7 separate regions of the Homo sapiens genome follow, and all the other regions are linked to region 1. The links come from fine-mapping of genetic effects on gene expression. A gene starts in region 1. Each other region holds a variant in brackets. All regions are shown on one strand. Distances are between the middles of the regions.

The links. PIP is the estimated chance that this variant, and not a neighbour inherited with it, causes the effect.
Region 2: its variant is fine-mapped to the expression of ZNF514 in gastroesophageal junction (GTEx, PIP above 0.99).
Region 3: its variant is fine-mapped to the expression of ZNF514 in aorta (GTEx, PIP above 0.99).
Region 4: its variant is fine-mapped to the expression of ZNF514 in esophagus mucosa (GTEx, PIP above 0.99). The same link has a PIP of 0.9 or more in whole blood.
Region 5: its variant is fine-mapped to the expression of ZNF514 in whole blood (INTERVAL, PIP above 0.99).
Region 6: its variant is fine-mapped to the expression of ZNF514 in whole blood (INTERVAL, PIP above 0.99).
Region 7: its variant is fine-mapped to the expression of ZNF514 in whole blood (TOPMed, PIP above 0.99). The same link has a PIP of 0.9 or more in tibial nerve.

Annotation. Positions count from the first base shown.
Region 1 is chr2:95,157,753-95,161,818 of GRCh38, forward strand. It overlaps ZNF514 (zinc finger protein 514), which reads right to left and starts at 2,096. Exons shown (of 5, transcript NM_032788.3): 1 at 1,488-2,096. RefSeq lists a silencer at 1,923-2,172.
Region 2 is chr2:94,608,940-94,613,005 of GRCh38, forward strand. No RefSeq gene overlaps it. Among named protein-coding and RNA genes, the nearest start is that of AQP7B, 24 kb to the left of the region's middle. The variant G/A (reference allele first, on the strand shown) is at 2,006.
Region 3 is chr2:94,725,551-94,729,616 of GRCh38, forward strand. It overlaps the pseudogene CNN2P11. Among named protein-coding and RNA genes, the nearest start is that of FAM95A, 34 kb to the right of the region's middle. The variant T/C (reference allele first, on the strand shown) is at 2,336.
Region 4 is chr2:94,874,639-94,878,704 of GRCh38, forward strand. It overlaps TEKT4 (tektin 4), which reads left to right. Exons shown (of 6, transcript NM_144705.4): 4 at 138-360; 5 at 950-1,104; 6 at 1,915-2,185. The coding sequence ends at 2,131. All of the region lies in intron 8 of LOC442028 (a long non-coding RNA gene), which reads right to left. Among named protein-coding and RNA genes, the nearest start is that of TEKT4, 5.2 kb to the left of the region's middle. The variant C/G (reference allele first, on the strand shown) is at 2,050.
Region 5 is chr2:95,399,172-95,403,237 of GRCh38, forward strand. FAHD2A (fumarylacetoacetate hydrolase domain containing 2A) reads left to right here and starts at 3,537. Exons shown (of 8, transcript NM_016044.3): 1 at 3,537-3,701. RefSeq lists enhancers at 2,307-3,246, 3,176-3,255, 3,247-4,066. The variant C/A (reference allele first, on the strand shown) is at 1,787.
Region 6 is chr2:95,282,115-95,286,180 of GRCh38, forward strand. PROM2 (prominin 2) reads left to right here. Exons shown (of 24, transcript NM_001165978.3): 14 at 28-112; 15 at 2,855-3,001; 16 at 3,525-3,596. Among named protein-coding and RNA genes, the nearest start is that of PROM2, 9.7 kb to the left of the region's middle. The variant T/TTTCA (reference allele first, on the strand shown) is at 1,657.
Region 7 is chr2:95,053,886-95,057,951 of GRCh38, forward strand. It overlaps MAL (mal, T cell differentiation protein (MAL blood group)), which reads left to right. Exons shown (of 4, transcript NM_002371.4): 4 at 1-107. Among named protein-coding and RNA genes, the nearest start is that of MAL-AS1, 29 kb to the left of the region's middle. The variant C/T (reference allele first, on the strand shown) is at 1,829.

The DNA of each region.
Region 1 (4,066 bases):
TTTGGAAATATAAATATGGAAAAGAACTTCAAGGAACTTTAAATCTAGCCTACAGGTTAACAATTACACAAGACCCAAGGCAAGGCCATGCAGGATTATGAGGCTTTAAGGGGAGGAAGTTACACCTCTCCCCTCATCCTTGGGAACCCAGCTCAGAGGCCACCTCTTTCTGAGAAGCTGCCCCTGGTGTTCCCAAGCTCTGTTAGGTCTCTGCAACACACTTGAGAGCTCCTTCATTATAAAGCTTTGCATCATACTGTTCATAAAAGCCTTAAAACAAACAAAAAAACTAACCCAAACCATGCCAGAGAAGTAGTTAAGGCTAACAACATGGGTGTAAGCATAGCACAGTTAGGCATTCCTCAAGCTTCATGTGTGTGTGGATCCCTGAGGATCTTGTTAAACTCTGGCTCAAGACTTGCTAAGACACTGTTTGAGGATGTGTGGGGCCCCAGAGTCTGCAATTCTAGAGAACTTCTGGGCAATGCCTCTGCTGTTCCCAGAGCCACACTGATTAACAAGGGTATAAAGGAAAAAAGAGGGGGTGGGAAGCCCACGGACTGGGCCCAGTTCTTCCACTGGCCAGTTATGTGTCCTTGAGCATGTGCACTGAAGGATGAACAGTCGGATTAAAATGCCCACCTGGTTAGAGATAGGACGTTCTAAACTTAGGACTGGCTTAAAACCTCCTGGGTCACCTGGATTGCCCTGCCCCCAACGCTATTGGGGGAAGGGGCTCAGAGGAGATACCCACCATGTACACTGCTGACCTTATACACCGCTGAGCTAGAACGACTGGAAGAACCTTATTAGTGAGGTGATTAAGGAGGTGGATGACAAGGCTCCAAATGGCCCTATCGTCCTCTGATCCCTGGCCAAGGGCCACTCCCTCTTGGGTTTGCTTGCCCTCTCCCTGCCGCAGCAGGAAGAGATCAGATCCTCTTCTGCTCTCCTCTGGCCATTGGGACAATTTTCCATGGCCATCCCCTCCACCTCCGCCACGGTCATCTAGAGACCCCTGCCAGACCCAGGAGACTGCGGCTTCAGCCTTCTGGGTCTGGAAGGTTAGATGTCGCCACACGGAAGGCAGATGAAGTACAGCCTCACCCTTCAGTGGGATTCCCCGGCCTCTTCCTGGGGTCCTCCTGATATCGGGCTCGGTACTAGCTCCCCAAGAGGGCTCCTGGCCCTCTGCACGCTCCAGAGCCAAACCTGATGCTGTGGAGTCCATAGCTGGGGCTAAGGAGCGGCGTCCTTTCACTAGGTCCAAATCTCTGTCTTTCGGCCACAGCCCTGTGGTCCTCCCGAGGGTTCAGGGAGCGGGACGCAGGCTGGGGCTGCCTGGGGGACACGGGGCATCCCCACTAGGCGCGGCGGGGCCAGCGGACCTGCAGGGCCCAGAGCAGGGCCGGCAAACCCCGGTGCGCCCAGCGCGGCGCACTGCTGCCCGGGGTCGTGCTCTTCCCTCGCCAAGTCCGGCCTCCTACCCCCGGCTCGGCTCCTCCTCAGGACCAGGCTCTGGAACCCAGCTCCCACGTGGATCCACACGCACAGTGGGCTCAGACTACCAGGAGACACGGCCACAGCCACGCCCGCGACGCGAGGGCCCAGCGCTCTTCAGCTGCCCGGAAACAGCAGGGATTCGGTGAGAGCCTCACAGGAGCAGGGACCGACTCTATCAGCCCGGTTCGCCCCGCTGTCCCTGCCTAGCTCCGGCCTGCACAGTCCCTAGCGGGGGGCACTCGGAGGGACACACCCAGCTCTGTAAGGGGCCGGGGCGCGGGCCCAGTACAGGTCTGCGCGCCCGCAGTCTCCGAACGCTCACAGGACCAGGCCCCGCCCGCCACCCCGCGCCAGCCCCCGCCCGCCACCCCGCGCCAGCCCCCGCCCGCCACCCCGCGCCAGCCCCCGCCCGCCACCCCGCGCCAGCCCCCGCGTCCGCCCCGCGCCAGCCCCCGCGTCCGCCCCGCGCCAGCCCCCGCGTCCGCCCCGCGCCAGCCCCGCCTCCCGAGGCCGTCCCGAGCTTGCGCAGACGCGGCCGCCGCCGGGGCCCTTCAGAGCCAGCGCCGGTGGCGGGGTGCTGGCGCGGCGAAGCTGGAGAGGCGGGGCTCGCGGGCGCCTGTAGGACCTCCGCTGGGAGGGGCCGTGCTCGCCGGCCACGCGCCGGTTTTCACTCCGCTCTCCCCCAAGGGCAGGGACCTACAAGCATTTCCCTTCTCGCGCGTGACTTTGGTAGCTGAGCCTCATATCTCTCTCGTTTTTTGGGGGGAGGGGGGAGACAGCCTCACTCTGTCGCCCAGGTGGGAGTGCAGGGGCGCGCTCTCGGCTCACCGCAACCTGTCTTCTGGGTACAAGTAATTCTCGTGTCTCAGCCTCCGTAGGAGCTGGGATTACAGGTTCCCGCCACCACGCCCAGCTAATTTGTTGTATTTTTAGTGGAGACGGGGTTTCACTATGTTAGCCACGCTGGTCTCGAATTCTGACCTCAGATGATCCTCCCGCCTCAGCCTCCCAAAGTGCTGTGATTACAGGTGTGAGCCACCGCCCCCAACCTGCATATCTCGATGTAAGGCTATTCAACAGAAGCCGCGTTCCTACCCTGGATCTGCTGAGTGAGGATTTCCAGGAGGCTCTCCTGGCGTGCCTAGGGGATACTGGGGACTCAGTGCTAGATACTGCTTCTACAGGCTGCCCCGTGCCTCTTGCCTTTCTCCATCTGCCCCTGAATTCAGCGAAGGGTGCTGAAGAACAAAAGAGGACTTTGAACGCCCTCCTACTCCAGAAACAAATATCATTTAGGACCCAAAAGAAATGGAAAAACGGCCTGCTATGGTCTGAATGTATGTGTCCCCCTCAAATTCATATGTTGAAACCTAACTCCCAAGGTGATAGTATTAAGAAGTGGAGCCTTTGGAAGACTCTGCCCTCATGAATGAGATTAGTGCCCTTTAAAAACAGCCCTTAGACCGGTCGTGGTGGCTCACATCTGTAATCCCAGCACTTTGGGAGGCCAAGGCGGGCGGATCACTTGAGGTCAGAAGTTTGAGACCAGCCTGGCCAACATGGTGAAACCCTGTCTCTACCAAAAATATATTTAAAAATTAGCTGGGCGTGGTGGTGCACGCCTGTAATCCTAGCTACTCAGGAGGCTGAGACAGGAGAATTGCTTGAACCCGGGAGGCAGAGGTTGTGAGCCAAGATCGTGCCACTGCACTCCAGCCTGGGCGACAGAGCAAGACTCCGTCTCAAAAAATAAATTAAATAAATAAATAAAAATAAAAACGGGCCTTAAGCCCCCTTTGCTCCTCCTGCCATGTGAGGACACAGAAGGTGCCATCTATGAGAAACGTACCCTCACCAGCCCCTGAACTGGCTGGCACGTTGATATTGCATTTCCCAGCATCCAGAACTGTGAACAACAAATTTGTGTTGTTTACAAATTCCCCAGTTTAAGACACTCTGTTATAGCAGCGCCAATGCCTAAGACACAGTCTGAGTATTAAAACGGTGGTTTTCTGGAGGCAGTCCTCAGCCAGAGAAGGGCCACTTGTGAGGACAGAGAGATTGGTTTATCAACCCTATTTAGGAGTTCAGGACAAAATAACTTACAAAATCAAGGCAAAGACAAAATAACACGAAATCAAGGCAAAGAGACCATTCTCCTTTCCTGCTTTTGCAGTCTCTGTTTCACTTTTCTGCCAGCACTTCCAGTGGCACAGATGGCCAGGATGGCGCAGCAAGCAAGCCCTTTTCCACGCAGGGGGACATTGTCTGGGAACCATGGCTGATATAGGAGCTTTTCCATCTTCGGTGCTCCGAACCAAAAAGGTGAGGGGATGGACAAATGAGAAAAGATTTTCATCTCATTGATGGCTCAACAGAACTAGAAATGGAACTACTTCAGAAGAACTTGAGGGCCACTGCCTTTCCCTGATGCCCATTCTGTAGGCCTGCTGCAGTGTCTGAAATTCCCCACTCTTACATTGTGTCCTTTGGGACAGATCTTGATCCAGAGGCCCTTGTTTGTTACAATGCACATTCATTACCCCAGGAATATTCTCTCTCC
Region 2 (4,066 bases), 550 kb before region 1:
ATAACACATTTTTCACAAATTGAAGGTTTGTGGCAATCTTGCATCAAGCAAGTCTATTCATTCTATTTTTCCAACAACATGTGCTCACCTGGTGTCTCTATTTGACATTTTAGTAATTATCACAACATTTCACATTTTTAAATTATTATTATTATTTTAAATATTTTAACTTTTATTTTAGGTTCATGGGAACATGTGCAGGTTTGTTCTTTAGGTAAATTCGTGACTCAGGGGTTTGATGTACAGATTATTTTGTCACCTGAATAGTAAGCATAGTACCCAACAATTTTTTTCCCCTGAACCTCACCCATCTCTCATCCTCCTCCCTCAAGCACACCCCAGTGTCTATTGTGCTGCTCTTTCTGTCAATGTGTTCTTATTATTTAGCTCCCATTGATAAGTGAAAATAGGGAGTATTGGGTTTTCTGATCCTGTGTTACTTTGCTAAGGATAATGGCCTCCAAGCTCCATCCATGTTGCTGCAAAGGACAGATCTCATTCTTTTTTATGGCTGCATAGTAATTCATGATGTATATATACCGTACTTTCTTTTTCCAGTCTACCACTGATGGGAATTTAAGTTGATTCCTGGGTATCTATTACCTAAATTACATATAAAAGCAGAAAAGAAAAATGACAAGTAGAACATGAAAGTTAAACAGTATCTTTTCAGGTTCAATGACATAAATATTCTTATTATCTAAAGGTATACAGTCTAATGTTTTATTTCCTATAGTGCTTTTATAGCAAAACAGTTTTCAGAATTAGATAAACCAGATTGAGGCCCCAGTCTTACTACCTATTAGCTAGGTAAACTTGAGCTTTTGGATTTTCAGATTCAGATCTCGCAGGCAAATAAGATTTATTTGATATTACTTGAGGATGACCATGTCTATCTTGCAGATTATTATGGTAATGAGTTTATTTATGTGGATTGTTTTAGGATATTTTAAAACTATGTACAGACCTAAAAAAAATCCTCATAATCTTTGCAGAACTGGGGAGGCATACAGACATAATACAACTGTAGGAGTTACTGTTTCTCATGCTTTTGTTTTCTAACTGCTCTGGCCACTGTTTTAGAAGGAAGGGTGAATATATGTAAATATTCCTGAAAAAATAAAGTTTTAGAATATTAAATTATTACATATTTCATTCAGAATTTTTTGAAAGGTAAAACCAACGATTGAACGTAGTTCATGGGATGATCTGGTCCATATTCATCTACCATGATTTAACAAATTTTTTTCTCATCTATTGATGAGGAAAAAATTAAGGGGAAATGTAGAAATGTAAGGTAAATGATCTGCAAAGAAATAAACACAGGAGGTATGTGGGAATGTAACTGTGTAGGTCCGCAGGCAAACTAGGTGAAGGAGGAAGGTGAGGAAGAAAGGCATTTAAGACTTACTCTTTCTGTTTTCTTCTCAATTTTAAAGCCTGATGGAATATAATTTTCTCTACAGTAAACGTTGAATGAAAATCAGTTTTGTGTGTGTTAATAATGACTTCACCAAGAGCATTTGAAGCTCTATCATATTTTGATGCTCAAAATAAAACATTGTTTTTATAGCTTAATAGTCTCATACAGTCAATTATTGCCTCCCCTCCAGACTGACACTTTGAACATTATTATTAACACTGCTGTCCTTAAACCATCATCGGCCTGCAGTGCAGACAATTTATTGATAGCTAATAAAACAGTGTTCAGATGCTGCCTGAGGGCAGGATTCAGAATTGTCATACCAATGCATAACCACATTTGATTTTTTGGAACAAGTTCCATTACTTAAAAATCATGGTTTCATTTTCTTATTTTTATATCTAGATTTTAACATTATATGCATGCCTATATAAGCATTAAATATGTTATTCAGTTATGTGTGAGTGTAACTCAAATTTCTTGTAATGTGTATGTACAGTTTAATATAAGACAGATTATTGATTAGGAAATAGTTAACAATTAATAATAGACATTGGCCAACCTCAATTACTAAACCAGAAA[G/A]AAAGTTTATTTATTTATTTTATTATTTATTTTTTTATTATACTTTAAGTTTTAGAGTACATGTGCACCATGTGCAGTTTATTTAAATGTATTGACTGTTTTTTAGTCACTACACAAATCATCTAAAAGAAAATACCACAGATGAAACCTGCAGATCCACTAACTGGTTATCAGTTTATCAAGACTGATCGTGTCCACTCCCTTCAGAAATCACATGGATTTGTGCATTATGCAGATCTTTTTTGGTCTTCCCCATCTTTTCCCATCCTGAACTAGAAGTAGAAGCCTATTGCATTTTTATCTGGTACTTTCTTTTGCATTTAGTAGAAATACATACACATACTACCCTAGGCTACTCCGCAGTACATTAAAATTTCCTTTTGCTTTCCAGTAATTTCAAATATCTCAACTAAATTTCTCAGTTGAAAAATCAAAGTTTTAATTCTTATCCATCTTTCAACATAAAAACTTTTAATATTGATTATAATGTGTTGCCTGCACTTTTTTTGTTTTGTTTTGTTTTGAGACGGAGTTTCACTGTGTTGCCCAGGCTGGAATGCAGTGGCTAGATCTCAGCTCATTGAAATGTCCCGAGTTTAAGCAACTCTCCTGCCTTAGCCTCCTCAGTAGCTGGGATTACAGGCAAGCACCACCATGCCTTGCTAATTTTTGTATTTTTATTAGAGATGGGGTTTCACCATGTTGGCCAGGCTGGTCTCGAACTCCTGACCTCAGGTGATCCTCCTGCCTCGGGCTTCCAAAGTGCTGGGGTTACAGGTGTGAGCCACCCTGTCTGGCCCAGCAGCCTTAATAGATACATAAATCTTACTCTATTAATTGAACTAAGAACATCTTTATAATTTTCCAAATATCATTTATAATTATTAAATATTAAAACATATTTATTCTGCTTACCAAACTTTGCATCTCCTCAGAATGCCTAAATATTTTGCCATATGAAGGTTCCAGTGGAAGTTTCAGATGATACATTTTGATGGCAAATGGTGAATTTTCCTATTGAAAAATATGTTGATTACAAGAAATAAGAGAGACGGTAGATTTTCAAAACCTTTTCAAACTATTTCAGATGAATATTCAGAATTATTTTACTTATAGATTGCACTCTTCTAAGGCACTTACATATTCTGACAACTACGTGTTTTTGAAGCAAATTTTGACTGAATTAATAAATGACAGCACAGATCAAAATTTAAAAACTTACAAAATTCTCAATAGATTTCACAATTGTGCAAAGTCCCATGCTTTCTTTTAATATTGTATACTTATTATACTTTTAAAGGGTACTTTTTAACAGTTGATTTATTATCAAATAAACTTTCTATAATTTGACAGAACAACATAAACTCTTGTTTTTCTCCTTTCTACCTAGAACATACATATGATAGTTGAGAAAGACACATATTCTGATCATGAAGAAATAAACACAAGTTAAATATGACTAAGCAGAAAGATGGAAGGACCAGGAACGGTGATGCTAACTTGGAACCACGATGCAGGCTCTAAACTCCTCTAAAATCATCCTCCCTTGTGAGAAAAATACATAAGTCACTCTTAAAATAAATAGAAACCTGAACACACTTCTTAGCTGGTTTAAGTATTTTAAAAACATTGATGAATTAAACACAGAAATATGGGGAAATCTCATTACTTACCTTAAATTTTGAAATTTTCTTTACAGATCATGAGTTACTTAATGCTCTTTCACTCCTGAGTTTACATTGTAAATTAAAGTTATGTCAGCTTTAAAAAATAACCAATTAAAAATAATTATCTAAATTTATACTTTAATTTTAACTAATAGTATGATCTCTTATTATTTACCTCTGATAAAGTCCAAATGTTTGTAGGCCTATAGCTCTGGTTATATACAATGAAATATCTTTCTCATGAGTGTAGAATATCTAGATTATATTTAATGCATTTACTTTTTGAGGAAAAGGAAACCCTTAATAAAATAGCTTCAAATATTTGGTTTTAAAAAATGAGAAAACAAACACATTACAGGACTTTTGGATTTATCACCAACATGTGAAGGGCTCA
Region 3 (4,066 bases), 430 kb before region 1:
CTCAGACCCTCAGTTGACTGGCAGCACTGAACAGCTTAAAAAAAAAAAGATGAAAACACAGAAAAACCCAAACACCCACAAGGGGAGACCATGTGTGGAGAGAGCGTGCTGGGAGCCTCAGTAGCCGGTCTCCTCCTGGTGGTAAGGGAGATATTCAGGGGCCTCCCCTGGCCCCGGGAAGTCACCGGAGCCCGAGGGAGCGCCATGGGCCACTGGGCCTCCCCAGTAGTACTTGGGGTCGTATATCTGTGGGCCCAGGCCGAAGGCCTGGCTGCTCTGATGAGCGCCCTGACTGTATCCCATCTTCAGGGACATGGAGGAGTTGTCACACTTGTCGATTCCCAGCTTGGTGTCATAGATGTACTCATTCCTCCTATCTAGCTGTAAGTTTGTATTTGTTAACCAACCTCTCCCTGTCCTCTCCTCCCTGTTGCTCTCCCCAGCCTATAATAACCAGAATTCTACTCTCCACTTCCATGAGCTCAGTTCGTTTTTTTTTAGCTCCCACATATGAGTGAGAACATGCAAGATTTATAATTCTGTGCCTAGGTTATTTCACTTAATATAGTCTTCCAGCCTGATCCATGTTGCAGCCAAGGACAGGATTTCATTATTTTTACGGCTAAATAGTACTCCACTGTGAATAGATACTACATTTTTAATCTATTATGTTTTTGGACATTTAGGTTGATTCTAAACTTGGCTACTGTGAATAGTGGCTGCTATAAACATGAGGGTGCAGGTATCTCCTAAATATGCTGATTTCCTTTCCTGTAGATAAATGCCACGTAGTGGGACTGCTGGAAAAAGAAAAAATTCTTTTTCTTTAAACCTGATCATGTCTGTCCTCATAAATGCATGTTACACCCATCTCTCGCCATCAATGCCACCCCACCCCGAGCAGTTTTTCACTCTTCTCTTCCCTCGTTCTCTGCACCCCGTGTGCCTCCATACCCCAGCCTCAGGCCTTTCTATACCACTTCCCATTTGAGGCACTGTGTTTTTATTCAACTTTGGTACTGTCCTTTGAGAATCTTCAACGTGATTTGGATATGGCACTTTTTATCAGGATGTTACGTCAGAGTTGATAAATTCAAAGTAATATCGTTCTTTTTCCTGCCAAAGTCAGCTCCTCCTTTCCACTGCACTTTCCTGCCGATGCCACCACTCTTTCTCCTGTTGTGTAGGGAGAACACAGGTCACCTCCCTGGCATGAAATGTGCAGGTGCTCAATAAAGATTTGTTGAGTACATGAATGAATGTTCTTAGAGGACACCCTTGTACCTGGACTGGTCATTACATAGGTGTAAGTTTTATTCTCTAAAAGGGGTGAGTGAGAGTTTATACTAAGGTTGTAAGCATCCCTCAGGGCAGACTCTGGATATATAATACAGAACTGCTGAACTTGTGGAATGTGCATGTTTAATACTGAAAATATTTAATGTCACATGTGTAAGACTTTTGCCAACTGGAATCTGAACATCAACAACTTTGAAGGGCTTATTGTACCTTCTCAGCACAAAAATACTTTCTACGAATACACAAATTTATGTGCAAACGTATAGAAAATTGACTTTAAAGTGTACAACAAATTTATTTTAGCAATTGGGCCTGGGGCACCTAGAAGGAGAATGAGATTGGAGTGGTAGGGGTGGAACATTAGCTAATAATGCTTTATTTTATTAAAAGTAATTACTGAAAACCAATGCAATAAAATATTAACATGTTAATTGAAGGGATTGGGAGTATAGTGCTTATATTCTTCTTTACATGTTTTAATATCTTTAAAATTCCTTTTTTTGCTTTTCGTAAGGAAGTCACAGTTTAATTGGCAGTATATCTCTAATGGTACATGAAATAATGTCTGATTTCTAAACATTGACATTCTACATTAGATGAAATATATTAACTATTAAGCTTTGATATTACACTATAAAATTAATTGAAGAAAGCCACCCCTCTTTTTTCTTTTTTTTTTTAGTTATTATGTGCCCCATATGATCTGCAGGAATTTTTTTACTAGGCTTTGATCATTTTAAATAAAATCAGAATTTGTTCAAGTTCAGTTAACACTCAGCTGTGAACCCTATGGTACTGGGGTCTTTTTCAATGGGAGATCTCTAAGCATTATTCCAGATTATTCTATGCTAATTGATCTATTAATAATTTATAATATATTAGGAAATACATTAAATTTCTTAAAAAGAAAAAGGAAAGAAGTAAAGGGAAACATTTATTACAATTTAAATAAAGGAATTAGCAGTTGAAAACAAGAAAACCTGTTCTGAGCATCCATACTTCTCGGCAACCAAAACAATCAATGAAATCAATGCAT[T/C]GGGTTAAACAGTTCCCAATTGCCCACTATGTTACCAGGAGAAAAAAACCCTTTATCATAGGGTTAAACTTCGGGAAGGATTTTCCATAAGGATCTTAATATAAAGGTTCTTGAATGACATAATGTATAAGGTCTTTGATAGCAACGCTACCCACAGGGCAAAGATGTTTTACTAGTCCTGTTGGTGTCTCAAATTGGCTCTCGGTAAGTAATCTGGACATATCGTGAAATTATAATTCTGTGTAGACAATTCGACTTACCAGGTTAGAGTGATGCAATCCAAATAGATGGCTTTCTTCTGATCTCGCTTAACAGAAATCTTGAAAAATCTGGAAAAGTAAATGTTTAATATACCCTCAGTTCTCAACCATTCTTCTTCCCCTGAAAGACAACATCACAGGCAGGACATCCTCCCAAGGGTACATGCAATATTATGTACAGTTCCCACGTGAGAAAGCACATCATAATCTTAGTGAGAATGATGTTCTCATAAGGTCAGTTATACTCAGTGTGCATAGTTGTCCAAGTGTGAGTATGAAACCAAGTCATTCGCAAGTACCACTAGTCTGATTATTAGTAATAATAATCCACTTGTGACATAGTTTTTCTTTGCTGAAATAAAATATTGTTTTGACACCATGGTTGAAATGTTGGTCTTAGGTCAATGCTCTCTATTATCTGTTGTTGTTGCCAAGCCTTTGAGAGGTGTTTTATGTGGGGCAAAATGTCCCTTCCTGTGTCTTTGGTCAAAGCAAAGGAGGAGTACAGATGACTGAGAGAGTGATCATGCTGCTGTGCTCACCTATGCGGTAGACCTTGTTCCTGGGTTGGGAGATGTTTTGTGATCAGGGTGCAGTAGAAAGAGCACACTAGTAGCAGTAAAGAGAGGTGACCCTGGCTGCAGTTCTGCCTCTAACTTCCTGAGTGACCTCAGGCTAGTCACGCAGTGACTGCTCCCCGCATTTCTTTTTGTAAGCTGCAAGGATTGAATCAGACAATAGCCTCTAAGTTTCTTCTGAACTCTCATACTCAGGGATGCCAACGATGTTGGTAATAAAATAATATGAACATGCCAAAAAAATAAAAATAAGGAAGAGAAGTAGGTATGTAACTTTACTCTGGGACTCCTATGGTATCTCACAACACCATGCTTCATGAACCCCAGAGAAAGCAAAAAATCCAGCTAGTGTTATAAATCCTGATCAGCTGAATTCTTTCACATGTTGCAGGCTGACTCAAGTTATTCATCGCAGAGGCCAGCAGCTCCCTGATGCATCCTTCCTTGTCTCTGGACAGGGTAAAAATAAGAAATTGGCCATTGTGAGACACTCTGAGTTTTGTGGGATTGAGCAGAGCATATTTTATATTCTTCTCTTGGAACTGCCTCTTGTTGGTAGTAAATGGTTGCCAGCACTGTTGTTTCTCAATAGACAAGTCCTAGAAATAAAGATAATTCAATTTTCATTCACTCTTAGCTCTTCTGCTACCAGTGTTCTTCTTTGACACTGACAGGGCTGCACCTGTCTTCCTGGCCTGACATAGCACTTGTGTGGTTTGCCACTTGCCAGAAAATCCATGAGTCATTCTAAAGACCTTTTGCCCAGCAGAGACCACTCCAATGAGCACAAATTGTCTAGTGGTTTTTTTTAGATGGTCTTCCTCCTTGGCTCATTTCTCTCCAAGAACGAAGATATCAAGGTGTTCATTTAACAGCAGCTCGTGAAAGACAAT
Region 4 (4,066 bases), 280 kb before region 1:
GGGCAGCATGGGGTGCATCGGAGTCCATGCACGTCCTCCAGGAGCATGGGGCGCGGACAGGGCATGGGGGCGCAGCAGGGCTCCCAGCCTTCGGCAGAGCCTCCCCGACCCTCTCCTGGCTGTCCCCCGCCCCGCAGCGCCTCCACCCCGGAGACCCGGGCCAAGTTCACGCAGGACAATCTGTGCCGTGCCCAGCGCGAGCGCCTGGCCTCGGCCAACCTGCGGGTGCTGGTGGACTGCATCCTTCGCGACACCTCCGAGGACCTGCGGCTCCAGTGCGACGCCGTGAACCTGGCCTTCGGGCGCCGCTGTGAGGAGCTGGAGGACGCGCGGTACAAGCTGCATCACCACCTGCACAAGGTGGGGCACCCTGAACCCCGAAGACGGCCCCCTCTCATCACCTGGCCTGGGCCCTCAACACCTTTCTCCTCTGTCCCATTTATCCCGAGGGACCCCAGAAGCAAGTGTCTCCTCTCCGTAAACCTATGTAAAACCAGGTGACACTGGGTATGATCGACCGGTGTTGCCACCCCTATGACTCAGCAGGAGGAGCTGTGGGGAGGATGGAGGCAGGAGGTGGTCTGGGGAACACTGACCGCCCGGGAGGTCCCCAAGAGTCCTGGCCTGGCAGGCAGGGCTCTGAATCTAGGGTCTCAGCGTGGCCTTTACCACCTCTGAGTCCCCAGTCCTTGAGCAGGATTCAGGTCCTGGTGACCACCAAGGATGGGGGTTCTTGGACCACAGCTAAGGGACAACAGGCTTCCTGACTCTCCAGAGCCCACTGGGGGCCCCGTGCACATTGTTCCCCTCATCCACGCCTCCCCAGGGCCACTGGTCAGGACTGCCCTCTGGACACAGCCCCAAGACCTGGGTAGGACCAGCCTGGTCTCGGCGTTCTATATACCCGGGCATGGGGGCACAGGCCCAAGGAGAACTGTCCTGTCTGCAGACACTGCGGGAAATCACAGATCAGGAACACAACGTGGCGGCACTGAAGCAGGCCATCAAGGACAAAGAGGCACCTCTGCACGTAGCCCAGACCCGGCTGTACCTGCGCTCGCACCGGCCCAACATGGAGCTGTGCCGTGACGCAGCCCAGTTCAGGTGCTGCCTGGGCCTCTGAGGCAGTCCCAGGTGGCCCTGTCCACCTCCTCCCTGTGACTCTCTCCAATAAACACTCCAACACCCCGCACACACATCCCCCGCAGGTGCTGAGAGGGGAGGGAGACTTTGGGGCCACACACAACAAGCAGGCATGCCTTAAACACACAGACATACACATGACACTGGGCAGGTCATGGGTCGGGGGGCTCCCAGTGCCAGGGACCTGTGCCCACGTGGTCTCACCCCACCCTATGCTACCTCATCTTCCCGGGAGGAAGCTCCTTCAGACAAGGTGAGCTCCAGGAGGCCACAGAGCCAGAGAGGCCAGGCAGGGCCATTCCCTGCTGCCCTGAGCGTGCTGTCCACACCTCTGGTGGGAAGTATGACCTACGCCTGCGCTACAGGCATAGATGTGCCGTCCTTTTGTTTCCCTTGATAACGGATGCCCGGTGGCCCCTTCTAAGTACCTTTCTTCTTTCCCTGCCCCTCAGTTCCTTCAAGGAACTGGGGGCCTCCTTCCATCAAGTATCAGGAATGGAAAGAACTGAGCCTGGTCGGCTGAGGCCAGTCCTGTCCTGCCAGGGTCGAGATTGCACACGGGTCACTCATTCCCACTCAGGCCCACGCTCCCTGGGAGGACCCTCGTAATTTATGCTCTGCCCTAGAGCTGCTTTCCTGATGGGGTTCTTTCATGGAGTCTTCCCAGGACCTCCTGCCAGCTCCCATTGGGAGTTTTGGGTCCCCTACACCCCGGTAGGTGCATACTTCTGCCCTCCCTAGCCCCGGCTCACACCCCCCCAACACCCCCAGGCTGTTGAGTGAGGTGGAGGAGCTGAACATGTCCCTCACAGCACTGCGAGAGAAGCTTCTAGAAGCGGAGCAGTCCCTGCGCAACCTCGAGGACATCCACATGAGCCTGGAGAAGGACATTGCCGCCATGACCAA[C/G]AGTCTCTTCATCGACCGCCAGAAGTGCATGGCCCATCGTACTCGCTACCCCACCATCCTGCAGCTGGCTGGCTACCAGTGAGCAGCGGCACGGTGCTTCCCCCCAGTCCCCCAAATAAACAGCGCGTTAGCTTTCTGCACAGTGTGTGTGTGTGCACGGTGGGACCTCGAGTTGCTGTCCATCTGAACTGGCCTTTGGGTCCCCTGTGAGGCTGGCTCTGCCTATGGACTCATCATCCTAACAGTTGGAGATGAGGGGTCAGAGCCAGAACCAGGAATCCCTGTGCCTGAGAGGACAGGAAGTGCCCAGGTGGGGACTGGGGCTCCACAGCACAGCTCAGGTGTGGGCGCAGACGGTGTGTCCAGCTCAGAGCCAGGCCATCCAGCTCCTCCCTCCCCACTTCCCCACCAGTGCTGGCTCCTCCATTCCTTCACCAGGGTCTTAGGACCATGGGACATCTTTGGGACCTCTGCATCTCCCCAACTCCTCCCCCTGCACCTCCAGGCCCCCAGCCTCAGCTCACATACTCCTGTGGACAGGGCGCTTACTCTGCTAGAAGCTTGTCTGGCTGCTAGGTGCACCTGCTGGGGTGATCCTCCAGGCAGGCCCCACCCAGAAGCGCCCGCTTCAGCATCCCCTCTCTGTCCCCAATGACAGTGTGTACCTGAGCTCAGCCCAGCCCAGCTCTCAGTGCCCACGACCCCTGAGGCTCAGATGGGCAGATCGGCAGGGGTACATGGAGTTCCCTCCTGGGTGTAGGCCCAGTGTGGGGAGAGGGGCCTGAGAACAGCCCAGAGTGGGCATCCACCTGGAGAGCATGTGGGTGGGGGTCCCATCTCCAACATCCAGGCCCACAGGGCTCTTGTCTCAGCCTGGAGGGGACCAGGAGGTAACAGCCCCTTCCCCCAATCAACCACAAGGACACCCAGCTGGGCAGCTCTGTGAGCTGGGTGGGGTCAGCCAGGTGGAAGTTGCTGCTGGGGGTTGCTGGGAGGAGAGGCATGGGCTGCCTTTCACGTGGGGCTAACTCAGACCTCTCTCCCCGACCTGCTAGGACCCCTCCAGAGGCCACTGCTGAACATGAAAAACACTACTGCTGTTCACTGGGGGAGGTGATAATGTTGACTGCAGGCAGTTGCCTCGGGGAGGAGCCCTCTTGGGAATCTTACTCAGCCTGGATGGGGAGAAATCTGGAAGAGGCTGTGTGTGAGCAGGCAGTGCAGGGAGGGCTTCCTGGAGGAGGGAGCCTGGCTTCCACCGCACAGGCCAAGGCACAGGGGCTGGGACCAGGGAAGGAGGTGTCTGGGCTGGGTCTCTCGCTTTATCTCGCTCTGGTTCACTGCAATAGGCTCATTGCTAACCAGGCCCGTCCCTCCCCAGCTCCAAACCCGACTATCAGGCAGGGAGGATTCTTCTACCCACCTGGCCACTCTCGGAGATGCAGACCCAGACCCTGGAGGGTGGGCCCAAAAGCTTCCAGGACCTTCTCTCCAGTGCAGATTCAGGGGGAAATGTCACTTCCTGTCACCACGGAAGCCGCACTACTACTTGTCGCAAACCACCAGTCACTACAGTAACACCCAAGCCCACTCTTATTCTTTGGGGTGCCATTTAAATTCGCCCTGGATGCTGTTACCATGGGGCTTTGACAGCCAGGAGCAGAGGCAGTGGGACACAGCAGCCAAGCCTCACCTGGGGGCTGCAGACAGTTCGTGTCCTGTCCATGTAGCTCCTCAAAGCTGCTCCAGGACACCAGGCAGGAGCTGAGGCAATGACCTGCCCAGGGAACACCAAAGAACCATCTCCCTGCAATCACCCCCAGCACAGGGAAAACCTGTAGTGAAGCAGATGGTGGTGAACTCAAAGGCCCCTGAGCTGGGGGGAGGTTGTTGGGTGGGGGCTTCACTCCCTGCCACCCTAGACACGATGGCCAGGGAGGGGTCAGGTGTGTGTGGGTGGTGGCTGCAGAGCCCTCCCTGCCTGCTGCAGGGGGATGCAGGTGGTCCAACACCATCC
Region 5 (4,066 bases), 240 kb after region 1:
TCCTACCTGGGACAAGAATCATTCCTCTGTTCAGCTTTTCCATGACGTCTGCCCTCCTTGCCCCTTAGTCACCAATGAGCTGGCTCCGTGATTAGATCCACTGTCGTGGTACCGCAGTGCTTCTGTGCAAGGCACCATCATCTGACTTCATAATGGCCCCAGAGCAAAAGGGGAGTGGTGTCGGCATTTCCGATATGCCAAAGAGAAGCCTTCCTTTATGGGAACGCTCCTGACTTAAGGAAATAAAACAAAAATCACATAATGAGGTTGCTAAGAGCTACAGAAAGAACGAATCTTCTATCCATGAAATTGTGAAGAAGGAAAAAGAAATTTGTGCCAGTTTTGCTGTCGCACCTCAAACTGCAAAAGTTATGGCTACAGTGTGTGAGAAGCACTTAGTTAGGATGGAAAAGGCATTAGATTTGTGGGTGGAAGACGTGAACAGAAACATATTCTGATTGAACAGCAACCGTGTAGCACCAGGTTAACTTCATCTGGATTAAATTTGATCACTGGCATGTATATATAGGAAAAGACGTAGCAGATGTAGGGTTTGGTACTATCTGCAGTTTCAGGCGTCCTCTAGGGGTCTTGGAAAGTACCCCCCAAGGATACTCTATACAAATGAAATAATTCCATATGTACTCATTTTTAATCTCTTTTTCACTCTGAATAATTATCTTGATATATATCCATGTTGCATCAACAATTTGTCCCTTTTCATTGCTGGGTAGTATTCCCTAGTGTGGCTATAACAGAGTGTTTACACATTCACCTGTTAATGAAAAATTGAGTTGTTTCCAGTTTGGGGATTTTGTAAAAAGGCTGCTGTGAACATTTCTGTATAAGCCATTGCATAAGCATTTTTTTTAAATTTCTCAGGTAATTACTATAAAACAAAAAAACAAATCTGGATTATATAAGGAGCGAATTTATTCCAAAGGATTGTTGTGGGGGTGACCATTGCAATAGGGAAACGTTGCAGTGCGGCCACTCGCAGGCTTCCCATATGATCTGCAAGTGTCTCAGAGGTTAGGCAAAGGGCTGATCTTGTATAGGGAGGCGTAAACGTGGCTAGAAAGAACTGTTATGGGAAAGTGGGCTGAGCAAGAGTGTCACGATCGAGGAGGTCTTACCCTGCGGACAGCCTGTTCTCAGGAGGGAACCTCAGGAGGGCTGCGGGTTGGCACAAGCTGTGGGTGGGCCAAAGCTCAAGGGCTTGGAAAAGGAGAGAATCTGAACCAAGGTTTGGTTACAGGCTTTTGTTCTTATTGATCTGTGGGACAAGCAGCCCAGCTAATCATTTATGAGGCCAAGAATGGGAATTTAGAGGGTCTGTGTCTGGCCTGGTCACAGATAAACAAGGGAGCATCTGGGAGTCTTATCCAGGTTATATAGAAAGTCACTGGTTCTTTCCAGTAGGGGGTTTTCTGGAACAAAAGAGTGGTGGGATTCCTTAACCTTCACTATTTCTAGAAGCAAAGGGCTAAGGTAAAATTCAATACTGTCAATAGTCAGGATTGAAATGGCTACATCATATGGTAGGTGTATGTTTAATTCTCTTCATACACTGACAAATGGTTTTCGATCGTGGTGGTACTATTTTATAATCCCATCAGCAGTGTACAAGAATCCCAGGTCCTCCACATTCTTGCCAGTACTTGGTATAATCAGTCTTCTTTGTCCATTCTAGTAGGTGTGAGATGGTGTCACATTGCGCTTGCAATTTGCATATCCTTAATGATTAATGATGTTGAGCATCTTTTCATGTCCTAATTTTTTCTTT[C/A]TTTTTTTTTTTGAGACAGAGTCTTGCTTTGTCGCCCAGGCTGGAGTGCAGTGGCACGATCTCGGCTCACTGCAAGCTCCACCTCCCGGGTTCCCGCCACTCTTCTGCCTCAGCCTCCCCAGTAGCTAGGACTACAGGCGCCCACCACCACGCTCGGCTAATTTTTTGTATTTTTAGTAGAGATGGGGTTTAACTGTGTTAGCCAGGATGGTCTCGATCTCCTGACCTTGTGATCCGCCTGCCTCGGCCTCCCAAAATGCTGGGATTGCAGGCGTGAGCCACTGCGCCCAGCCTTCATGTCCCAATTTTCTGTCTGTATATCTTATTTGATGAAATGTCAGTTCAAATATTTTGTCCATCTAAAAAATTGAATTGTTTGATTTTATCTACTGACTTTTAAGCATTCTTTCTATATTCTGGATACAAGTCTTTTTATCAAATATAGCCTTTACAGATATTTTCTTCCAGGCTGTAACTTAGCTTTTCAGAAAGTCTTTGGGAGCTATGGCTTAGTGAAACCCTTGTGCCAGGTTCTCCTCAGCGAATCCCCCTGATCACAGCCACCCCCATAGGTTCCATTTCAATATCTGTGGTGACCTTCTGCAAGCTAGGCTGAAGTCCCAAGCTCCAGACCCATGTCTCCAACTGCCCACCGTTCAATGCCCTTTGGATGTCCCATGCAAATCGGAGCTCACCATCCTCTCCCCAGACCCGCTGCTCCTCCAGGAGCCCTGTCTCCATGAACGGCCCTGCACCTACCGAGCTAGAGACCCAGGAGTTGGCCTTGTACCTCCTTCCTTCTCACTTCCACCTCCTGTCATTCAGAGCTGTCAGTTCTTCCTCCTGAACATCTCTGGACACTCACCTTCTCCACCACGCACCGCACCACCATTGTTCTCAACCGCACCACCCACCCAGACACCTTTCCTCAGACGGGTGGCCAGAGAAAAACTTCTCAAATAGAAGTCGGGACATGGCACGCCACTGAGAACCTTCCAGCGGTCTCCTGTGCACGTAAACAAGGTCCAGACTCCTTCGTGGGACAAGTAAAGCTCTTGATGATCTGGTCCTTGAGTAATGTGGGGGCCACTTGTACAGAGCCCCTCACACTGTTCAAAGTCGGCAGCTGAAGAGCTGAGCAGTAGCTGTCTGTGGAGTTCAGCTGCCACTCCCTACACGCCTGCCCTCTGCAGGGGATGGAGTCCCGTTTCCCCACTTCCCCACCTGCGCCCAGCAGTGCAGGTGAAGGCCTGGCTGCGGAGAGTGGCTGGGAAACGCTGCGCTTTGGGGTCAGGAATGCCAGCTCCACTACTCACCGCCTGTGTCACCCTGGGAAAACAGCTCTGGCCCCAGGTTCTCCATAAGTAAAACGGGGGCAGTCATCCCTCCCCTCCTCAACGACATATGTCAGAATCAGAAGCCACAAATCATTCTCTGCCACCCAGCACGCTGCCTTGGTCTCCTAGACCACTTTCCCCAACAATGGGAAAGGCGCCAGGCCCAGAACAAGGCCGAGACCGGATGAGGCCAGCGAAGCGCCCAGGGACAAACCTTCGGGCAGCGCCCACTCTCGAGTTCAGGCAAGTGCAGGGTCCCTCCGAGAGAGAGCGTCTCCAGAGAACGCGGCTGGCGCCTGGCTGAACCCGTAGCCTGAAGACCCGCCGGAGCCGCCCGCCCCACGATGGGCCCGCCCCTCCGGGATTGGCGCCCTGCTAGTGGCCATTGCCTGTGACGTCACAGGATCGCGCCCGCTTTTCTCTCGGGTGATCCGGCCGAGTGGCCCTGGGTTAGCAGCTGCTGCATTTCCCCGGCTGGCTGCGGTCACTGGTGGCAGTGCTCAGGCGCCCGCCGCCCTTGACCTTCGGCCCCGCGAGCTCTAACCCTACAGCGCAGGAAGATCGGCCGCCGCGGCCAGGTAGGACGAGCCTGGCTGGGTCTAGGCCAGAAGGGTGTCCGTGGCGCCGGTCTCCCGCGGAGCGCAGAACTAGTACCGGATCCCCAGCCGCTTCTGACCACACAGACGGGGCGGACCTGTGTGAGCACTCACTAACTGTCGGGGCTGGAGCTGGGCATATGGGGAAACTGGGGGACCGGCACGGGTTCCAGGCGAGTGGACGGTGGGATGGAATCCGACGTGCACACCCATGTCTCAGGCTTTGTTTGATGGAGGCTACTGTTTCCACCTCATGTCGCCGCCCCTTTGCTTATGGACTCTTGCAGAGTTGGATTGAGCTCGGGCTGTGTGATATAGTGGTTGTTGCAGAAGCCCCAGGGCCACTT
Region 6 (4,066 bases), 120 kb after region 1:
TCGTCTGCACCCCTCACTCCTCCTCAGGCAGTGCAAGGAAGGGGCAGCGCTCTGGACAGTCCTGCAGCTCAACGACTCCTACGACCTGGAGGAGCACCTGGATATCAACCAGGTGAGAGAACGTTTTGGAAACTGTGAGGAGCCCTCCTCAGATCCCCCTCCTCTGGTCTTTTTGCCTCTGTGGAGGCACCGTCTCTTTGAACCTAGGAGACCTGAGAAGTCTGTGTGAGCGATTAAGGTGCCCAAGGGCAGAGGCCCAGTTATCAGCTCTGGGGAAGGTTCCGGGTGTGTAGGTGGGTCCGTGTGCACCTGAAGGCTATGTCCAGCCCCAAGCACAGCCAAGGTGGCAGCAGGAAAGGCTGGTGACAGTGAGCAGGAGGATGAGGGGGCCCATGTGTCCTGACTGAGGACAGGCATTGGCTGGGATGCTCCACTTGGGAGGGGGAGGCTGGGGAAGGACGTGGCAGTGACAAGGATGGTGGTGAGTCTGGCTAACGTTGGTGGAGGGCCTGCCAAGCTCACGCAGGTGGGAGGTGGTGGTGGCAGGATTCCATCCCCAGCCTGACAAGCCTCTTCCTGTAACCTCTGGAGTTACTGGAACTTGGTGTGTAGAACTGGAGACACTTGCCAATGCTGGAAAGAGACAGTTCTAGAATGAAGGCAAGGAAGGGCTGTTTCACAAGAGGGATGGACTTTGAGAATGGGGCTCTCCTCATGGTGCACAGCAGCTGGAAGACATTCACTCCTCGACTTCCACGCTCCTAAGCATATGCTGGGGAAACCCACATCCCCTGGCCCTGGTTCCCCTCGCCCTCCCCAAACACAGAGCATGCTAACTCCTGATTTTGCATCGTTCTGGGAAACCCTTCCAACCCCTGGATCCACCAACCAGCCTCGGCCCACGGACAGCACAGCCGGATGGCCCAGCCCCAACTCTGTACCTTGAACTGCACAACCTGGGACAGTTATGCAGCTCACTCCTCCTTCCGCATCTTTAACCAGACAGGAGCTCCCCGAGCAGGCGATATCTCAGTGCTAGGCTGAGACACTGCCCTGTGGAGGAAGCCTGGCCAGGGAGGGATGAACCAGGGGCCTGGGCAGAGGAGCCCCCATCCTCTACTGGCAGGAAGCCATGGCTCTCGAGGGGAGGAGTCCTGGGCTCTGGTCCTTGGCAGGGGAGGGTCCAGCTCACAGGAGAGTCTGGATAGATAGGGCTTTGGATTCAGATGCACTGGGCAGTCCTCTGAGGCCACCTGACAATGTACCAAATGTGGCTGTAAGAATCCTCGTCCTCAAAGGAGACACTGATGGGTAGGCAGACATGAGTAACACACAGGGCTTTCCAGAGCACGGGGAGGGCACCAGCCACCTTTCCACTTCTCCTGAAGCTGCTGCCACTGATGCCTGAGACACGGCCCGAAGGCCCCCACCCGAGAGGGCCAGGCCTTTTCTCCTCCAGGAGAAGGCAGCCTGGAGGGATGCGGGGAGGAGAGCCAAGCTGGGCTGCAGTCTCTAACCACCTGTGTAACCTCGGCAAGTGGACGCTCCACTCTGACCTCAGTTTCTTATCTGTTAAACACTGGGCTGACTTTTATGACCTCTAAATCTCTTCCAGTGATAGTAGGAAAATGCTAAGGCTCTTTCCTGAAAATACAG[T/TTTCA]TTCATTCATTCATTCATTCATTCATTCATTCATTCATTCACACAGCTAACAAACTTGTCTCCTGCCCACCATGTGTGACCCTCCGAGTTAGATGCTGGGGGTTTGGGGCTGAATAGGCAGGCAAAGTCCCACTCTTGTGGAGCTGACAGCATTGAACAATTAACCCACAAATAAGATCATTTCAGAGCAACAAGTGCTTTGAAGGCCTCGACACAGCTGATGGGATAAAGAGCGGCTGAGAGAGCTATTTTATTTCAGGTGGCCAGGGAAGGTCTGTGTCTCTGCCCAGAAGCCAGATGGGCACTGGAGGAAGGCCAGGTCTTGGCATTTGGGGCAGGGGCCTACTGGGAGCCTGTCTGGGGCTTGGGGTGTCCAGGGCAGGGGGCCCTGAGGGCCTGCTGTGTGAGTCTGTTCTTGTGTTGCTATAAAGGAATACCTGAGGCTGGGGCATGGTGGCTCATGCCTGTAATCCCAGTACTTTGGGAAGCTGAGGTGGAAGGATTACTTGAGCCTAGGAGTTCAAGAACAGCCTGGGCAACATGGGGAGACCCTCCTCTACAATTTTTTTTAAAAGCCAGGTGTGGTTTCTTGCACCTGTAGTCCCAGCTACTCGAGAGGCTGAGGTGGTAGAATCACTGGAGCCCGGGGGATCTAGGCTTCAGTGAGCTGTGATTGTGCTATTGCCCTCCAGCCTGGGCAACAGAGCAAGACCCTGTCCGCTTCCCCAACCAAAAAAAAAAAAGCAATACCTGAGGCTGCATAATTTATAAAGAAAAGAGGTTTAAGTGCAGGCTGTACAGGAAGCATGGCACCGGCAGCCGTTTCTGGGGAGGCCTCAGGAAGCTTCCACTCATGGCCGAAGGCCAAGGGGAGCCAGCACATCACATAGGGAGAGAGGGAACGAGAGAGCCAACGCAGAGGTGCCACACTCTTTCAAACACGTGAAATAACTGAGCAAAACTCACTCATCACATGGCAATGGCACTAAGCCATACGTGAGGGATCCGCCCCCGTGATCTAGTACCTCCCACCAGGCCCACCTTCACCCCCAACACCGGGGATCACATTGCAACATGAAATTTGGAGGGGACAAATATCCAAACCATATCGCCTGGTGACCCCTGTGCTTAGGGGAGCATCTCTGGGGTCCTGGCTCAGCAACTGGGCATGACTCCCACCCTGCGCCTGCTCTCCCAGTATACCAACAAGCTACGGCAGGAGTTGCAGAGCCTGAAAGTAGACACACAGAGCCTGGACCTGCTGAGCTCAGCCGCCCGCCGGGACCTGGAGGCCCTGCAGAGCAGTGGGCTTCAGCGCATCCACTACCCCGACTTCCTCGTTCAGGTCAGCGGTGGGCACCTCAGCAGGGCTTCCTCAGCAGGTGGTGATGGAACGAAGGGGCCCACAGAGGAGCTGGGTGTGCATCTTGCCTTGTCCCAGCTCTGGCTCTTCCACATTTCCTGGGGCCTCTTCCTGTGGAGGTGTCCCCAGATCATGTGCCCCTGGGCCTGTCCTCCTGCCACCACCCCGGTCACACAGGAATGGACAACCTCTCCCCCAACCCAACAGCATGTGTTGCTGTTCATGGTCCTGAACCCACTGCTGCCGAGGACGCATTGGGAAGTTGCCTCTTCCTTAGTTACACCAGAGGGTGCCTTATTTGTTCTTGTTGTTTCTATCTCACTGGGAAAATGTCTGAAATATTTCACAGTTCCAGGGAAAACTCACTGTGACTGATGTGTCACAATACACTTAGCTGGTGTAGGTTATATTTGATAAGACTGGGGATTTGGAGGCTGGGATCAGGTGGTGGTGGGCCCCAGGGGAGCTGGGTTCATCCCTCCTGGCCTCTTCTGTCCACCTGCAGATCCAGAGGCCCGTGGTGAAGACCAGCATGGAGCAGCTGGCCCAGGAGCTGCAAGGACTGGCCCAGGCCCAAGTGAGTGGGAAACAGGGCCCCGACTGGGCAGCAGGAGCCACAGGGGGCTTGGGAGGCGGGAAAGGGTGGGAGGATGTGAGGGCAAAGGCAGGGAACTGAGGACCCCCACCAGTGAGGCCTGAGGCTCCTGACCCCTGGCTGGGCTGGAGGGTTTTGCAGCATCAGTTCTGACTCAAGCTCTGCCACCCGTTGGCTGTGTGGCCTTGGGCAAGACATGCAGCATCTCTGAGCCGGAGGTTCTTCATCTGTTGGGTGGACTGTCCTCCATCTCAGAGCAGATGAAATCACTTCTCTGGCCTCACGCAGTTGGGCAGGTGTTTCTGTGTGTGCCACTTGTGGGATTTGCTGGGACAGGTGCTGTGAGGACATTGGGATGAATGAGATGTCATGGCAGTTGCCCTTGAGGGGAAAAATAGCATTTTGTATTTATAACTATTTAGGGTTTAAAAGTTCTCTTTGAAACATCCCAT
Region 7 (4,066 bases), 100 kb before region 1:
GTTCTGCATGTCATGGGGACTAAAACTCACCCAACAGATCTTTCCAGAGGTCCATGGTGGAAGACGATAACCCTGTGAAATACTTTATAAAATGTCTTAATGTTCAATACATTTGTTGGGTGTTTTTTGGGTTTGGGTTGAATTCCTCAGCATCAAGAATACCATCAATTCAGCTTTCTTTCTGAGGAATCCTTTGACTTAACCTGAATCTCAAGAGACAGCATCAGGTGGCAGTTCAGACGACGGACACTGTGTGTGCCAGGCCACTGCACTCTCAGAGCCCGGTGCTGGGGAGCCCACCCTCCCAGCTACCTGCCCAGATGGCTTCCCCTCTCTCTGGAAACTGGCCAAGTGCCAGCCAGGGGCAGCTTCTCCTTCCTACAAGACACAACAGTCTGTGCCCCACTAGAACCTCCTTCCACCAAAAGAAAACACGGTGCACAAGTTTTCATTCACTCATTGTGAAGCTCATCAGCGTGTTCCTGGGCAGTCTGCTTTGTTCCCATTGTGTGGATAATACATTATTTTAGAATTTCCTCGGGCCACTCCATAGGAGAGAAAGGAGAGGAAATTACAGAGTGAAAGGAAGTACGGTGACAAGGGGTGAATGCCATGTTTCAAGTCTGAGATGTCTGGGTTGAAAGGAGATGGGATGATTAGGAAGGAGGCACTGAGTTAGGAATCTGGAAAGCCCAGCTCTGTTATGAAACGCTCCCTTATCCCATGGCTCCGAGAAGTTAGTGCCATTCCAGAGATGGGACGCTGGAAGAGGTGCTTGAAGACCCGTGAGCTTCCTGCCATGGAGGTGTGTGGTAGAGCATCTGCAACCTCTTGCTGGCAGCCATGGGGACAAAGATTCAAGCTTCAGGCTGTAACGGTGTCATGTACCTGTGGTCCCAGCTACTCAGGAGGTTGAGGTGGGAGCATCACTTGAGCCCAGGAGTTTGAGGTTGCAGTGAGCTGTGATGGTGTTACTGCACTCCAGCCTGGGCAGCAGAGCAAGACCCTGTCTCTAAAATAAAATGATAAAATAAAATAAAAATAAAATTCAAGCCTCAAGTGGTGAGTTTAGTTGACATTTTACTGCTCTTCAACTTGGAGAGTCTACAACTAAATTGGTCTATTCAGGAGGTCCTTTGTTAATCCAGGATAACTGGTACCAGAAACCAGCCACTCTTAGTAAGTACACGTCAAACAGCCAACATTTCATAGTATATCATGAGCAAAAGGTTTGACTGGGGCTTTACCTAATGAGAAGTAATAGGAAGTTTGTTACATGTTTAACAAAATTTCCATCCAGTGTTGATTGAGAGAAGTCTCATTTTTCAACAAAACTGTCCACAGGAAGCCATCAACATGTTAATGAAGCTCACTTTTTACCCTCATCAAAAAGAAGAAGAAGAAGGAGGGGGAGAAGGAGGAGGAGAAATGGAAGGCTTAGTTTCCCAAGGGCTTCTCAATGTTTTGACATTTTAATCATTCTCTTTTTAAAAAAATCTTTCATATACTCTTTCTCTATTTTTAATTTAGCCAAAGGCTTTGCAGATGGTTCTCTGACGCCACTTTCTTATTCCTTCTAGCCCTGGGCATATTTTAAATTTGCAGTTTCATTTCACATTTGACTTGCATCCTATTCACATTGGATGTAAATTGGATGGGCAAGGTTTCATTTCCAGCCTCAAAAAATGCCCCCTTCCGGTCTTGCTCTTCCTCCTCACCCCCCACCCTCACACCCCAGCCCCTGTCGGGTTTCTTTGCTCCTGCATCTCTGTTCCCAGCTCTGTCCCTATCTGGCTGTTTTGTGCTTGCAGGTACACATGAGTGCTGG[C/T]GGCAGCCCTGCCAGCCATGGGTGCTGCTCCCCTGGGAGCCCACGATGCCTGGGTAGGAAGGGTTGGGAATGGGGACATTAGAGAAGCCTGCTGGGTGAAGCAGGCTGCAGAGAGGGGCACCGGCTGAGCACCTTCTGTGTGCTGGGACCATTGAGGGGATGGTTTCTAGCCCCCAAAGCTGCTTCTTGCTGGCACCCCTCACCTCTCTGCCTCTGTCTTACACAGGAGGGGACCTCCTCTAAGGCAGAGCCTGGTGCCACCCAAGGCACTCACAGACTGCCTGCTTGTGGCCCTCACTTAGATCAAACGCAACTGCCCAGAAGACCCAAATTCACTCTTGTGTAACCATCTTCCCTGCCATTTTGGGGGCTCTTGCCTTGTGCCAGGCACTGTGTAAGCACTTTCCATATATAGCTTTCTGTCACTCTCCCAGTGGCCACGTCATCCTACAGGTGAGAAAACTGAGGCTGGTGCAGGTGGTGAGAAGTGCAGTTGGACTGAGGGCCGCCTCCCTCTGGCCCTGAAGCCCTGGGCTTGATATGACCTCAAGGCACCCAGACCTGTCCTCACGCGGGCCGTCCTCCCGTCTCCCAGGAAGTGGCAGTGAGATTTAGTGGTTGACAGGATGCTGGTAGGCAGGAGCCTTCAGAGAGTGATGAAGCCAGGCACTTAGGATAGCCCCAGTCCACCAGCAGGGCCTATAGCAGCCCACGGCCACGGCCAGGCCCTGCACTCAGCGTCTCCTGGAGAAGAGCTGGCTGCTCAGAGCTGCAGCCACAGCCACGCCAGCTCAGGTAGCTGCTGGGTCCACTTTGCAGCCCCCATAGAGCCAAAGCCAAAGTCCAGCTGATACTTTGCAAAGGTGAGGAACTGGGTATTTTTAAGCTCACAGAATAAGGAGCTAAATCTATCCACAAGCCTGAGAAAGGATTAGGAAGAGGCCATTGTGTATGCTGTGACTCAGAGCCAAAGCTTGCAGAATAGGCCAGACCATAGTCAGTCACCCCACTTTTGTCCCCACCAAGTTGTGGGCCCAGCAGAGAAGAGAACAGAGGGGTTTGGACCAACTGGGCCTCGTGGGTCACTGCTAAGGGCTTCCCCCTCCCCTGATTGTCCCTGTGGCTTGTGTGCTGTCCATGGACCCAGGAACGTGCAGTGCCCGGTCAGGCGCCAGGAGGGACACGGGGCCAGTGCTCAATAAACACGGCCGCATAAGTGAGCAGGCCCAGCGCCCCAGGGCCGCTCCAGCTGACCTGTGCTCATGCATGTCTGTCCTCTGGCCTCTCAGGAAATGACAGTGAGATGAGACCTTGTGGTGGACAGATGCCAGGTGAAAGGGAGTTTCTGATGGGGGTGCAGCCAGGGTTTGGTACAGTGTCTGGGAGCGCTCTGGTGTAGATTTCACTGGACAGTGATTTGGTCACTGCATTCCTTCTTGCTTTCCATGGCCCTCGAGCAGCTCCATGGGGCTTATGATTCATTATGGACACGTGTGTGGGGAGGGGGCACATCACCAGAGAGCAATCAGCAAAAGGTAACTATAAGCCAAATCCAGCCAGGACATTTTGGAGGCTATGGCCTGTGACTTCCCAGGCTGTGGCCCCCTTGCTTCAGGGGGCGATCCTGGGAGTATCCTCCTGGTGGCCTTCCTTGTGCAGGGCAGGGTGGCCTGGGAGGTGTCCCAGGGAGCTAAGCTCCTGCCCCCCATTCTGCACATGATAGAGCCCCATCGATCTTCCCTTCTGGAGAAGACACAGCTTATATGAGCCGGGCTTCTTCAACATTTGAGAGCCGAATTCTAAAAAGCATCTCGTACCCCCACTCCCGCAGGTTGTAGGACTATTTTTGCAAAGCAGCCCAAATGGAGGATTGAAGGCTGCCTTACGCTGACCTTAAAGAGACAGCAAAGGGTTTGCGCTGCCAGCCGTGGGCTGGAGCGAGCCTGCCTTCGGGGCCCACACAAGGGCCTGTTGTTCTGGGTATCAACTGGGGCCGGTGTGGGGTTACAAAGAGGCCTTTCAAAGAGACAAAGCGCCTCTGGACAGGCTGAGTGTCCCTGCACACGTGGGCATCCGCCCAGGGCATTTAAAATAACGCGATTTGAAAAAACAGATTTGAAGTGATTTTTCCTACTCCGCGTTATTCAGTGGCCTTTGTTCTGTCTGCATCATACCCGGCGACAGCAGCTTCTAAGAGCTGGGGCGCTGGAGCAGACACGGGGGTTCCTAGCTGTGGCT